Homo sapiens: one gene and its partners. The protein of the gene in region 2 purifies or fractionates together with the protein of the main gene of each other region. This does not show direct contact. Each region holds a gene or a part of one and is shown on either strand. Other genes may lie near its edges.

Region 1 (4,039 bases), on a different chromosome or scaffold from region 2:
GGTGGCAGGCGCCTGTAATCCCAGCTATTTGGGAGGCTAAGGCAGGGAGAATTGCTTGAACCTGGGAGGTGGAGGTTGCAGTGAGCCGGGATCACACCATTTTACTCCAGCCTGGGTGACAGAGCGAGACTCTGTGTCAAAAAATTAAAAATAAAATGAAATTAAATAAAATAAAATGTCTTGTGATGAAAAACCAAAGCCAGGCTGGAAGCCACAGAGCACCAGTGGTGTTGTGACTTCACACTGGCAGGTCAAGAAAAGTTTCTCTGAACAGGTAACACCTATGCAGAGATCTACAGGAAGAAACACAGTGAGCCATGCAGTTATCTGGGAAGTGACCAACATGAAGGAAACAAATGGAGAGGCCCTGAGGCATCTTCAGGATAGTAACAAAAGGGGCCTTCCAACATCCATGAAGCCCACAGGGCAGGGCTGGAACACAGCAGAAAAGCCAGCAAGAGCTGGTGAGAGTCCCATTTCACAGAGGCGAGCCATGTGTGGGAGCTGGACCCAGATGTTCTACCACCTAGACCAATGTCCTTTGACTTCACAGGCTGCTATTTACGCAAGACCCCTCAGGAACAAGATGTGGCCTGCAGCCCTCTGGACCACCCCCTCAGGGCCTCACAGGCTAAGATTCCCAGGCAATCCTGACCATGTGACTTAAAGAGGGCACCCTCACTCACCATCCTCCAGGCCTCGGCCGCGGGGCCTGGGCTTGTTGCCCACCACTCCAGTGCCTGCATGCACCTCAGGGGTTTCAAATGTGGCTGGAGTCACATCTAGGGGAAGAGAGGGGGATAAGAATTAGAGTGAGCCTGAAGCGACAGTTCAGCAGGCTTTCCCCTCTCCGCCACCCACAGGGTCCTCATACAGGGTGGCGGGGGCTCCCGGGACATCTTGCCCAAGGCAGAGCCAAACTTGATGGCAATCTGGCGCATCCGTTCCAAGTCTCCATTCTCCTCGGCTTCCAGGTACTCCTTCTGTGCCTGGAGCTTCTCCACATCAGGAAAGAAATCCCTTTGGATGACCGTCTGGAGGCCCTGCAAGGAGAGATCAGAATGAAAGTCAGAGGCCAGGCGCGGTGGCTCACACCTGTAATCCCAACACTTTGGGAGGCCAAGGGAGGTGGATCATGAGGTCAGAAGTTCAAGACCAGCCTGGCCAACATGGTGAAACCCAGTCTCTACTAGAAATACAAAAATTAGCCGGGCGTGGTGGCAGGCACCTGTAATTCCAGCTACGTGGGAGGCTGAAGCAGAAGAATCGCTTAAACTCGGGAGGCGGAGGTTGCAGTGAGCCAAGATCACACCCCTGCACTCCAGCCTGGGCGACAGAGCGAGACCGTCTCAAAAAAAAAAAAAAAAAAGAAAAAAGAAAGTCGGAGCTGCAGTCTGGGTGCTCCTGCCTCACAGGTCCACTGCTGTACATGCTAAGGAACTTGCTGAACCTCCTTCAAATTCTACTTCCCCAATGACTGGGGCTGGATTGAGGGAGCTTGAGGGCACTTTCTAGTGGGGTTGAGCATCCCATATGGTAGCCATGCTGCAACCTCTAACATTACTAAACACTCTTCTGAAGTCCGTGAAACCCTTCTCTCTCGCCCTTGCTAACTGGTCATTCTCATTCTCCATTGCTGGCTCCCCACAAGCCAGACCAATGTGGGTGTTGTCACTTTCATTCCACACATGACTTTCTATTTCCAATCTAAACCTTTCTCCTGGCGGGGCATGGTAGCTCACGCCTGTAATCCCAGCACTTTGAGAGGCCAAGGCGGGCGGATCACCTGAGGTCAGGAGTTCGAGACCAGCCTGGCCAACATGGTGAAACCCCACCACTACTAAAAATACAAAAATTAGCCGGGCGTGGTGGCGGGCACCTGTAGTCACAGCTACTCGGCAGGCTGAGGCAGGAGAATGGCTTGAACCCAGGAGGCAGAGGTTGGTTACAGTAAGCCGAGATCGCGCCACTGCACTCCAGCCTGGACGACGAGCGAGACTCCGTCTCAAAAAATAAAATAAAAATAAACCTTTTTCCTGAGTAACTTCAGCCAGTCACTACCACAAGTTGAGATTCCCAAGTCTGCACCTCCAGCCAGACCTTGCTCCCGAGCTGCATATCTGGGCACCCAACCGTCCGTTAAAGCCATCCATCTACATATCCCAAAAGGTGTCCCGAATTAAACAGGTCTAAAACCAAACTGACTTCCGCCAATCCCCGTTTCAGCTCCTCCTTCTGTGTGCGTGTGGTGGGGCGACGCAGGTCCACTCACTCGAGATGCTGTCACAACTGCGGTCTCTTTCCAGGAACCCCAGCATTCACACTTGCTGCCACCGCTCTTTAGAAAGCCCTCTTTGCCACCATCCTTCCAGTTTGTCAAACTCCTACTCACACTTTAACAGAAAATCTTCTTTCCCTGACCCCCGTCCCATACAAAGAGAGCCGCTCTCTCTTTTCCCTGACAACACTACTACAGCCTCTTCCACCACAGACGTCTTCCTCTGCCCTGTTTACTTGACTCGTGGGACCGTCCACACCCGGCTCCTCCACTTCCACGAGGAGACGGAGTGTCAACACCCGAGAGAGGGAACCTGAGAGGAGCTTGAAGCAGAGGATGGGCCCAGAAGTCGCCGGCGTCCGCACCGAGGTCGTACCTCGATATACTCTTCCTCGTCCAGGACCCGCTGCTTGCTCGTCGCAGCCCCAGCCTCTCCCGCCTCGCGCTTCCTCGGGGGCCTGGACGCGGCGGGAAGCAACAAGGACGACGCTGATGCGCCCGGCGTCTCCATCGCTATCCCAGGAAAAAGCTCGGGCCCAGCAGGCGCGTCACAGGGTGGAGGGGGCGGGACTGCACCATTTGCGCAGGCGCCTCCAATAGTTGGCCAATGGAAAAGCTGTGGCTCTAGAAAGCCAGCCCGCGCTCCGTTCTGACGTCACTATAAATGCTAGACTTTATTGGAAATGTAGTCCTTGTCCTGCCCCGCGCTATTCATGCTTGTCAATGCTGTGAACACGAGGGGGTGCTGTGGAGGTGGCGGGGAGGATGCTATAGGGCGTGTTCTTCACGCGAGAAATTCTGGCTTTGCAGCGTCCAAAGGCCTTAGAATTCTAATTTCCCACAAATAAGAACTATGTATGCTTCGAGATTATTCTACAAAAATACAAACCAGGAAATTTACTTATATAGGAGTTTCAAGCTTTATGCAAGAAAAGGGCCTTAAAACAATTTTTTTTTTGAGACGGAGTTTCGGTCTTGTTGCCCAGGCTGGAGTGCAATGGCATGATCTCGGCTCACCGGAGTTCCCGGGTTCAAGGGATTCTCCTGCCTCAGCCTCCCGAGTAGCTGGGATTACAGGCATGGGCCACCACGCCCGGCTAATTTTGCATTTTTAGTAGAGACAGGGTTTCTCTATGTTGGTCAGGCTGGTCTCTGGATTACAGGCGTGAGCCACCGCACCCGGCCAAAACAATCTTTTTTTTTTTTTTATAGTTATCTAACAAAAGGTGAAAGAACAAGACAGTGGTTCGATTAAGAAATGTCTAAAGATTATTCTGTAATCCCAGAACTTTGAGAGGCCAAGACAGGCGGATCACCTGAGGTCAGGAGTTCTAGACCAGCCTGGCCAACAAGATGAAACCCCATCTCTACTAAAAACACACAAAAAAATTAGCTGGGCATGGTGGTGGACGCCTGTAATCCCAGCTACTCGGAAGGCTGAGGCTGGAGAATTGCTTGAACCCAGGAGGCGGAGGTTGCAGTGAGCTGAGATTGCACCATTGCACTCCAGCCTGGGTAACAAGAGCAAAACTCTGTCAAAAAAAAAAAAAAGATTATTGGGCCCCCAAATGCCAGAGTGGGCTTCCCAGAAGAGGGATCATTCTCATTCAAGACCAGGCACGGTGGCTCACGCCTGTAACCTCAGCACTTTGGGAGACCCAGGCAGGTGGATCACTTGAAGTCAGGAGATTGAGACCAGCCTGGCCAACATGGTGAAACCCCAACTCTACTAAAAAAAAAAAAAAATACAAAGTGGTGGTA
Region 2 (4,000 bases):
TTGCTTCACCACTTCATGAAATTGCTCTCCTCAAGGTCAATGAACATCACTTTGGGGACACAACCAGTCCTGCTCTGACTCTGCAAGGACATACAAGGGTCATCTAACCCAGATTTGAGGATGAAGGCAGGCTAATATTGCTGCTGACATTGCTGGCAATTCCTTTCTTTTTGACATACTCCCTTCTCTTAGCCTTTCCAGCGTTCCTTCTATTTCTCTGTTCCTTCTCTATTCCCTTTCCAGGTCCTCTTCCTCTGTCTGTCCCTTATGATGTTAGTGTTCTTCAGAGTTCTGTGTAGGCCTCCCCTTCACTTTTTACCTCATGGGTGATCTCATCGCTTCCCTTCTTTTTCAGTTTCCATCTATAAACCGACAGTTCCTGTAATCTGGGTTAGAGATACAGATCCCTCTACAGAGTGCTAGACTATCCAACCATTTAAAAGACATCTCTACTTAGATGCCTCAAACTCACCTCAAACTCCACAACTCCATAGCTCAACTCATCGCTTTGCTACCTCCCACCACTCCCCTGGCCATCTTTTCTCCTCCTGTGTTCCCGAGCTTAATGAAATGGTACCACCACTACTAGTTTACCCTAGCCAGAAACCTGGAAATCATCTTTGACTTCACCCTCTTTCATTTCCTTATCCTCTTATATCTAAATCAGGGTTTCTAAACCTTGGCACTTCTGACATTTTGAGGGCTGGATAAGCCTGTTTTATGTGTGTGTGTTGATGGGGTGGTGGGGGTGCTGTCCTGTGCACTGTACCATGTTAATAGCAACCCTGGCTTTTATCCATTATTTAGGTCCCAGAAGCAACCCCTAGAAGTGCCAGAAGTTGTTACAATCAAAAGTATCTCAATACATTGCAAAATGTACCCTGGGAGGGCAAAATTGCCCCCAGTTGAGAATCACTGACCTGTATCCATCAAGTCCTCCCTGTTTTACCTCCTGAATACTGTATCCCTTAAATTGATATACTTTTCATAATCTCCTCTACCACATTCTCATTTCAGGCCATCATCAGGGTAGATTAATCTACTAGCCTTCTAACGGGTCTCCATACCTCCAGACTGGTCTCCTCCAAATCATTCTCCACAATGATGCCAGAATGACCTTTCAAAGATCAACCCCCTTCCTATAACTCCGCAACATCTTCCTCCCAACCCACCATTAAACATTGTGAAGTTTCACTTTGCTCTTCAGATAAAGACAAATTCCTTCACATGACTTCCAACACACTTAATAATCTGGTCCCTTGTTTACCTCTCCAGCCTCGCCTTTCATCCTCTCAAACTCTATGCACTAGTTAGACAATTTCTGTTAGTTTTTCTATCACACAAACTGAACCTCTCGGGGGGTCTCTCAACCTGGGACATTATTCTCTCCATTTCCTCATCTGATCAACTCCTACTTATTTCTTCATGTCTCATTTCCTCTGGAAAGCCTTCCCTAATTCTTCAGAGCTGGGTTAGATGCTCCTCCCACAAGCTTACAAAATACTGTAAAATCACCTGACCACAGCACGAGGCATTGTAACTGGCTACCTCCTCTGTATACATTCCGCCCTTTAGATTGTAAAATCGGGACACAGACTGTCCCTTATCTTGCTCAAAAACCTCCAAAACAAGGTGCTTAGAAGGAATTATATTTATTTTTTAAAAAATAAAGGAATGTTTACTACAAAAGACACAATCTTTGGAGCTAATTCTCTCAAAAAGTTGTTTCTATATGGACAAGTAAAACCAACAGAATAAAGTGTGTGCCAGATTATCCGTTTAAAAATATCTGGGCAAAGTCTTCATGCTCTGAAAATGTCCACGCATCCCAACTGACAGTGGAATTCAGAGGCAATTCAATAATAGTTTGACCTCAGACCCACTCCCTCCAGCCTATTTTCTGCCAATCTAACAAACAGCTTTCCACAATTATCATTACCTATTTTCTACTAGTTTTCTCATCAGTATCGGTATTAGAGTGTGCAGGATTTAAAATCAGTATCTTGAAGGTGGAGAAGAATCCTTGTAATAAAAGCAGAGGCCACAAAATGTTATTTGTACCAACTACCTGGGTACCTGCAAACATAGGCCAAAGCATTCGGCCCTGTCATTCACTCTTTGCCCCTGGGAACAGCAAAGATACCGCTGGAGCCACTGCCTGTCAGTCCCCTAGGAGTGAGTCTGTCATCAGCACCCGGACCCTGCAGAAAGGCCCGTAGTGGGCGTATCCCCAGCTTCCCCGAGCCCCATCCACACAGAGCGGCCCTGCCTCTGCGAGCTGAGTAGCGATCGGGATCCTCTGCACCCGCTCCACAACGGCGAGGCCTCCCTGCCGGAGCTCCGAGGGGCGGCCAGGTCCTCACCCACCCCCGGCCGCGCGTCGCCGCCCACCTCGCAGTGCAGGAGTTCGGTGCCCGGGTCCTGCCGCCCCGCGATCCGGCAGAACACGCAGGTGCTGTCGTAGTCCTTGGGCTCTGGTGACTTGCCAGCGGCTTCACAGGTCCCCACTGAGGAAACCGTAGTTTCTGCAGTCGCCGAGGCCTCACAGTCGGGGGCCAGGCCGGCGCTGCGGTTCACCTGTTCCTCCGCCATTGCACCCGCCCCTCGCGGCCTAGAGCCTCGGCCTCTCCAGGGCTACCGGGCCCGCGCAGTCTCCGCGTCCCGCACCTCCTCCGTTTTACCTCGAGACGTCGCCCCTCGCCTGACGCTGGGCGGTGATCCAGGCTTTGGGGAGAGGGAAGGAGACGCGGTGAGGAACTTCAAAGCCGGAGGCCGGCCTCAAAACCGGCTGCCACTAGAGGGCGCGCAATGGCGCTGCCGAGAGTCGTCCTGACCCCTGCGCCTCGTTGGTAATGACGCACGACGTCTGCCAAGTCGCAGAGCGCCCAGCGCGTCGTGGTGACATCACAGAGGCGCGGGAGCGTTTGACATAATGGAGCTTGTTGGGTGTTCTGGACAGGCGTTCTTCAAAGCCCATAGTATAGCGTGTCCAAATATTGTATTACGCTGCCGTTTTTTTAAAAAAAAAAACAAAAAGTTTTTTAAAGTTTGATTTTTAAAATTCGTAGGTTTTTAAAGAATGAGCAAAATTCCTAAAGCCTTGTTTTCAACAGACATCATGTTTGCTGCTTTTTCAGCCACGATAATTGTAGGAGTTTAAACTCAAAATGTCCAAAACTGACCTTTACATCTCTGTTGACTTTTTATTGTTGTTAACAGCACAGTTAGATCAAACTAGCGACCTTTTTTTTAATCTCACATTCCTCATATACAAGTAGATGTGGAGTCCTATAGTCAATACTCTGAAATATCCCAGAAATTCAATGCCAGTGCCTCATAATGCCTCACCTAGACCAACGCAATCACCTTCTAACTTACTTATTGATTTTCCTGTCACTCAGACAAAACCTTCTGTAACTATGTGCTCAAAGAAAAAGTACCAGTTCCTTAGCTTGGTGTTCAAGGTGGACTCTGATTTGACCTCAGCTTTTCGTTTTGTGATACTTCCCACTTGCTGAGCATCTAAAACATGCCATATATTTCTCTAATTGTCAAAAAACGCAAGGTTGGTTTTATAACCACCGCTCTAGAGATGAAGGACCAAACTCAGAGTTGCCCAGTCCCACACAACTAATTAATAGTGACAGAGTTTAAGATCAAGGTTTGTCTAACTCCAAAACCCACCAACCTTTTTGACATACAGCACTCCTTTTTTAACACCAAAAAATTTGTTGGACTAGCTCACTATAGTAGTTACACCCTTGGTATTTGCTGATTTAGAAAATACATAACAAATTGGGAATTCAGTAATGATTTTTAATGGATTTATGTTGTAATAAAAAGTGGTTGTATGTGTTTTGAATTGTTGTACATATACATTCAAGACATTTTTCATTCCTTTTTGTAGTTGGCCCGTAGTTTGGGGAACCACTACAATAGCTTCACTGCCTTTCAGCACCCCAAAGCAGAGTTCAGAATCAATACATTAGAGTTTTGCCAA
Region 3 (3,281 bases), on a different chromosome or scaffold from region 2:
TTGGCCTTTCGAAGTGTTGGGATTACAGGCGTGAGCCACAGCACCTGGCCAAATTCATCTTTTAAAAGTTGCTTAATCCCGGCCAGGTGCAGTGGCTCACTCCTGTAATCCCAGCACTTTGGGAGGCTAAGGTGGGCAGATCATGATGTCAGGAGTTCAAGACCAGCCTGGCCAATATGGTGAAACCCCCATCACTACTAAAACAATGCAAAAATTAGAAGGCCGGGCGTGGTGGCAGGCAGCTGTAATCCCAGCTACTCGGGAGGCGGAGGCAGGAGAATCGCTTGATCCCAAAAGGCAGAGGTTGCAGTGAGCTGAGATTACACCACTGCCCTCCAGCCTGGGTGACAGAGTAAGACTCCATCTCAAAAAAAAAAAAAAAAAAAATTGCTTAATCCCAGGTTTGGGTTTTCTGTCCTTGTGGCTGAAGGGACCCTGAGTGAAGGCTGCAGACTCATCAGGGGCAGATGGAAAAATACCAGGATTGAGCCTCTCAGAAGTGATGCTTGAATCCAGTCTTCAAAGATGAGGACTCCGGCAGGTGACGTGGCAATAGCGTTTTGGAGGGACCAGTCCAGATACACAGGCATGGAGCCATGCATTTGTTCCAGAAAGTGTATTTGGATGGAACCGGAACATGGAACAGGACACACAGCAGGATGCGGAGCAGTGTCAGATGAGGCCAGAAAGGTGGGTGGGACTGGTCTTCAGGGGCTCCAGATGAGGCTGAGGGGCTGGGCCTAGGTCCTGGAGTGGGGTCAGCTCTGGGACCCTTCTGGGGCTGTGTGGGGAAGGGGCTGGGGGCCAAGAGGTCCAGGAGGAGGCTGGCGATGAGATGGCTGGAAGCCAGGGGTTCAGGGAGGCCCAGGCTCCTGGTATCAGGGTTCACCGGCTATACTGAGGATCCCCTGCCCCTGGCACCCAGCTGTGGAGGGGACACTGTCTTTGAGGCATCACTGGTTCCACAAAAGGTAGGGGAAGGTCTTGAGGGACCACCCCATGCCCTCATTAATCAACCAGAAGCTTGGCCCGGAGCAGCAGCGGGGATTCCAGTAGCTGTGGGCATACAGGATGCTAGGGCGGCCACAACCCAGGCAGCTGAGGCCGAGCCACCTAGGAACGCAGGCTCAGAGCAGACCCTCTTGGGACAGACGGAGAAGGGGAGGGGGCGGGCTTCTCTAAGTTAAGCCGATCACTGAGCACCTCACTGGACACGAGAGAAGGCAAGCCCCTCGGAGGACAGAAGGGAAGAGCCACAGACTTGGAGGCTGTGAAAGTGGAGACAGGTGGACCTGGGGTGGCAGCAATGCGTGAAATGCCAGGCCGTGCCCCCGCCCCAGGAGCCCAACATGACACCAGCCCCCAGGGAAGCTGACTGTGCCACTTCATCCAGCGCCCATCAGTCGCCTTGGAGCATCAGGAATCCTGAGGGCTGGGGTCCCGGAGGATCACAGATGCTGGGGCACCTCAACCTCAGGGAGCCGCTCGAGAAGTTTCTTTTCTGAAGTGTCCACCTCCTTCTGGTCACCGGCTGGAGCTGGGACAGGTACATCGTCTGGAAATGGAGGGAGGGAATGGTGGCACAGGACATCCGAACCCCTCCTCCCCCAGGACCCCAGAGGCCCAGCCCCTCCTCCCTCACACCCAGGGGTCCAGCCCCCAGCCCCTCCTCCCTCACACCCAGGGGTCCAGCCCCCAGCCCCTCCTCACTCACACCCAGGGGTCCCAGCCCCTCCTCCCTCACACCCAGGGGTCCCAGCCCCCAGCCCCTCCTCCCTCAGACCCAGGAGTCCGGACCCCCAGTCCCTCTTCCCTCAGATCTGGGAGTCTGGGCCCCCAGTCCCTCTTCCCTCAGATCTGGGAGTCCAGGCCCAGCCCCTCCAACCTCAGACCCAGGGGTCCAGCCCTGCAGCCCCTCCTCCCTGGACTAGGGCCAGCACCTGTGTCTGGGTGGAACTTGAGCTGCCCCTCAGGGTGGGCAGCCGGGGCCTTGTGGCCTTGCTGCTGCTGCTGCTGCTGCTTCCGCTGCTCCATGTGCAGCACAGCCTGTGGGAGGTGGGGGGTCACACAGACAAGAGGGTGTGATGCTGGCATTGCAAGTGCTCAGGCCTCAGTCCCCAAACGGAGACTTCACAGCAGCCTGCTAAGTGGTCACGGCCAACCCCTTCTCCGTGGGCCTCAGTTTCTCTCTTTCATTGACAGTCGGGCTTAATAATAGTCAAGGATCCAGTTCTCCCTCCAGTCACAGCTTGGGTCTTGCTTTGGGACAGGGAAACCCTCACCCATCCCTGGCTGAGTCTGCCTTTCTCCCCCTCCTGGGCCTTTCCCTCCTCACTTACAGCCTTAATGCCCTTATCTCACATGGCAGCCACAGAGCCGTCAGAGACGGGAAAACGTCTGCCCTTACTCAAGATGGCGGTGAATACTTGAGGCTCCCCCAGTGATTAACATGGTGGCCACAGGCCTTCCCAGCTTCTGGACACCCATGGGGACACGGACACGGGCAGCCAGAGATTCAGTGGATGGAAGCAGCTTCCCCCGCTGTCACCTGCTGCAGCTCTCTCTTCTGGGCCTCCAGGCGGCCCTGGGACCGCCCTAGAGCCTCTGTCTCCTGGCTGAGGCGCTGGGCCTTGGCATTCAGCTCTGCCTCCCGGGCAGCCAGCTCCTCTTCAAAGCGCCTCAGCTCTTCCTCGGTGTAGGCAGGGTGCATCTCCACTGTCTGCAGGGCAGGCACAGGGGCCATCAGGGGCACAGGTCCAACCTCGGCCCACCCATGTTGGAGAGGGTTGTGCCAATGGGGGAGGTGTAGAGGAGGCTGGGAGGCCAGGGCCATGTGGGTGGGCAAAGAAGCCCAAGTGGGAGGTGGGAGTGGGATAAAGACCGAGAGACAAGGCCGGGCACCATGGCTCCCACCTGTAATCCCAGGACTTTGGGAGGCGAAAGTGGGAAGGATCACTTGACGCCAGGAGTTCAAGGTCAGCCTGGGCAACGGAGCGAGACCCTGTCTCTACAGAAAATTGGCTGGGCATCTTGAAAAATATATAGAAATAGGCCAGGCACCATGGCTCACACCTGTAATCCCAGCACTTTCGGAGGCCGAGGTGGGTGGCTCACCTGAGGTCAGTAGTTTGAGATGAGCCTGACCAACATGGAGAAACCCCGTCTCTACTAAAAATACAAAATGAGCAGGGCATGGTGGTACATGCATATAATCCCAGCTACTCAGGAGGCTGAGGCAGGAGAATTGCTTGAACCTGGGAGGTGGAGGTTGCAATGAGCTG
Region 4 (2,900 bases), on a different chromosome or scaffold from region 2:
AGCCTGTGGGGGCCTTCATGGCGGGTATTTCATCTCTGATCCCCAGGCCCTCACATGGGCCCGGCACAGAGAGGGCCCTCAGGCTGTTTGGTGACTCAAACTGAAGGGTCCTGGCCCACTCTAAGTACAAGATGAAAAGGGTTCACTTCCAGCTGGAGCAATCTGGAAGGCTTCCTGGGGGTGGTGGTATTAGAGTTGAGCCTTGCTTTCTCCTGGGGAAGGTGAGGAGGGATGCAGTTCAGAGAATGGGGAGCGGGGTGGCTCCTGCTTCCTGTTCAAAAGTAGTTGTGGGGAAGGTTGGAAAATGAAGGCTGAGGGCTTACTGTGGAGAGCGCTGAGGTGTTCTAGACCAACTTTTCTCTAGAAAGCTCTGGAAGTCTTCTAAGAAGCTCCCCTGAGGTGGAGGGTGGCAGCCTGACCTCAGTGAGGACCTGAGCCCCTGATCAACTAGGGGCTCCTAGAGACGGCTGAGGAGCATCTCAGACCCGAGGTCAGGATGGACTGAGGGAGGCCGAGGTGTGGCCTGGATGCCCCTGGGTGCCCCCTTCCCTGTGCCTCTGAAAGGGCTTTGAGTTTGGGGAAGAGAGGGCTGATCGGGCTTGCGCCTCAGTTTCGAGGTTTCTGTGCCCTGCATGTGTTGGGGCAGCCCCTCAGCTGGGGCTCACCATGTCCCAGCAGCCAGGGCAGAAGTTGGCTTTCCTGGGAGTGCATGTTGCATGAGAGCAGGGGCCAGCCTGGCACTTGGGGGCTTACCTTCCTGAAAAGGACTTCCAGGTCAGAGGGGCTCAGTCAGGAGGGGGCCAGAGCCCCAGGGGAGCCAAGAGCCCATGGTCACTTGTGGCACCAGGGACAAGGATCTCCTGCTGTACTAAGAGGCCCAAGAAAACTGAGTGTGGGACTGGGATGGGAAGGATTTGCTGCACAAAGCCTGGAAAGTTCTAGGGGAATAGGATGCCAGGCAAATTCTGGAGGAGGAGTCTCTCATTTATAAAGCCTGCCTCCCCAAAGTGGTCTGCCCTGCTACATCCCACCCGACTGGTACTAAGACGCTTCTGTGAATTCTGAGCCCTTGGCATCAAGATCCCCATGTTCCCTCTAATAGTAAACTTCCTGAGGGCAGGGGCTATGTCCAATAGGCTGTAGAACAGTGGTTCTCAAAGTGAGGTCCAGGAACCTTTGGGGTACCCGGGATCTCTTCAGGGGTCTGTGAGGTCAATTTTTTTTTTTTTTTTTTTTTGAGACGGAGTCTTGTTCTTGTTGCCCAGGCTGGAGTGCGGTGGTGCGATCTCGGCTCACCTCAACCTCTGCCTCCTGGGTTCCGGCAATTTTCCTGCCTCAGCCTCCCAGGTAGCTGGGATTACAGGCACACGCCACCACACCCAGCTAATTTTTTTTGTATTTTTAGTACAGACAGGGTTTCTCCATGTTGGTCAGGCTGGTCTCGAACTCCCAACCTCAGGTGATCCACCCACCTCGGCCTCCCAAAGTGCTGGGATTACAGGCGTGAGCCACCGTGCCCGGCCACATTGTTTCTGTAATAATACTAAGATGTTATTTGTCTTTTCACTTTCATTCTCTCAGTGAATGGTAGAATTTTCCAGAGGCTACGTGACACGAGATATCACAACAAATTGAAATCAGATGCACATATAAGAATCCAATTGTCTTCAATTAAGCCAAACAAAGAGATTTGCAAAAAGGTAGAACAATGCCACTCCTGACTACATTTATTTTGTTTTAGAATACATAACTAGTTGTCATAAAAATATATTTATATTAATGTAATGGGTTTGTTATAGCTATTTATAAATGAATAAATATTATAAACAAATGTATACAACTTACAACATTTTTCTGGCTTTTAATTTCTTTTTTGAGATGGAGTCTTGCTGAGTCACCCAGGCTGGAGTGCAGTGGCACGATCTCGGCTCACTGCAAGCTCCACCTCCTGGGTTCACACCATTCTCCTGCCTCAGCCTCCCGAGTAGCTAAGACTACAGGCGCCCACCACCATGCCCAGCTACTTTCTTTTTGTATTTTTAGTAGAGACAAGGTTTCGCCATTTTAGCCAGGATGGTCTCAATCTCTTGACCTCGTGATCCACCTGCCTCGGCCTCCCAAAGTGCTAGGATTACAGGCGTGAGCCACTGCGCCTGGCCCTGGCTTTTAATTTCTAATATAGTAAATAGCGATAGCTACAACTCACATTAACAAAAGCTCTTTGGGTTCCTCCATACTTTTTAAAACTCTAAGGGGCCCCGTGACTAACAAGTTTGAGAACTGCTGCCCCACAGTAAGTACAGTACATCAGCAGCAAATGTGCCAGCACTCCTCATGCTCATGCCCGCAGCAGACATGACTAATAGATCACATGCGTACTTTCCCCTGACCCAGAGTGTTCTTTCCCAGCCCCATACCTTTTCAAGATAACGAGGGCATGCATTGTCCATGGGAGGAGGAGGAGGGCCTGGTTGAGCTGCACAGCTTCCACTGTCCTCCGGGCCACCGTCTCCGGCTTCAGTGGGGGAAAGAGGTTGGGAAACCTGAACACAGGAAGAGACACAGTGGGTTTCTCCTGGAGAGGCATGTGCTTATCTGGAAGTCTTTATGAGGCTGACATGTCTGGGTCACCCTTTGGCTTTTCCTGTCTGAGAGATTCGAGGCCTGCTTGGAATACTCCCTCTACCCCACACCCATCCAGGTGCCACATTCCCTCACTCCTCCAGGCACACAGGGGTCTCTTCTTGAGTCAAGGACTTCTAGCCCACCCACTGGGGACCCACTCTCCCAAGCCCTCCAAGGGCTCCCAGTGCCCTAGGGCTTGGCCTTTCCATGGCCCTGCGTAATCTGGGCCCTGGTTGTCCTTCTGAGTCCTTTTCCCTACACTCTGCTCCTTCAGG

The links. The genes of interacting proteins can lie anywhere in the genome.
Region 1: the proteins of HINT3 (region 2) and ESS2 purify together in Homo sapiens (affinity purification with mass spectrometry; one large-scale study listed by BioGRID and IntAct). This does not show direct contact.
Region 3: the proteins of HINT3 (region 2) and NUCB1 purify together in Homo sapiens (co-immunoprecipitation; 2 studies listed by BioGRID and IntAct, with this or other methods). This does not show direct contact.
Region 4: the proteins of HINT3 (region 2) and DHRS3 purify together in Homo sapiens (affinity purification with mass spectrometry; one large-scale study listed by BioGRID and IntAct). This does not show direct contact.

What each region holds. Positions count from the first base shown.
Region 1 is NC_000022.11:19,141,852-19,145,890, forward strand, and holds the start of ESS2 (splicing factor ESS-2 homolog), read right to left. Parts: upstream 2,801-4,039; 5' UTR 2,790-2,800; coding exon 2,655-2,789; intron 2,642-2,654; exon of another isoform or gene 2,273-2,641; intron 1,044-2,272; coding exon 875-1,043; intron 783-874; coding exon 687-782; intron 1-686. UniProt on the Homo sapiens protein: May be involved in pre-mRNA splicing.
Region 2 is NC_000006.12:125,955,570-125,959,569, reverse strand, and holds the start of HINT3 (adenosine 5'-monophosphoramidase HINT3), read right to left. Parts: upstream 2,801-4,000; 5' UTR 2,593-2,800; coding exon 2,392-2,592; intron 1-2,391. UniProt on the Homo sapiens protein: Exhibits adenosine 5'-monophosphoramidase activity, hydrolyzing purine nucleotide phosphoramidates with a single phosphate group such as adenosine 5'monophosphoramidate (AMP-NH2) to yield AMP and NH2.
Region 3 is NC_000019.10:48,920,592-48,923,872, reverse strand, and holds the end of NUCB1 (nucleobindin-1 precursor), read right to left. Parts: intron 2,720-3,281; coding exon 2,549-2,719; intron 2,047-2,548; coding exon 1,941-2,046; intron 1,556-1,940; coding exon 1,449-1,555; 3' UTR 501-1,448; downstream 1-500. UniProt on the Homo sapiens protein: Major calcium-binding protein of the Golgi which may have a role in calcium homeostasis. Acts as a non-receptor guanine nucleotide exchange factor which binds to and activates alpha subunits of guanine nucleotide-binding proteins (G proteins).
Region 4 is NC_000001.11:12,570,311-12,573,210, forward strand, and holds part of DHRS3 (short-chain dehydrogenase/reductase 3), read right to left. Parts: intron 2,544-2,900; coding exon 2,418-2,543; intron 1-2,417. UniProt on the Homo sapiens protein: Catalyzes the reduction of all-trans-retinal to all-trans-retinol in the presence of NADPH.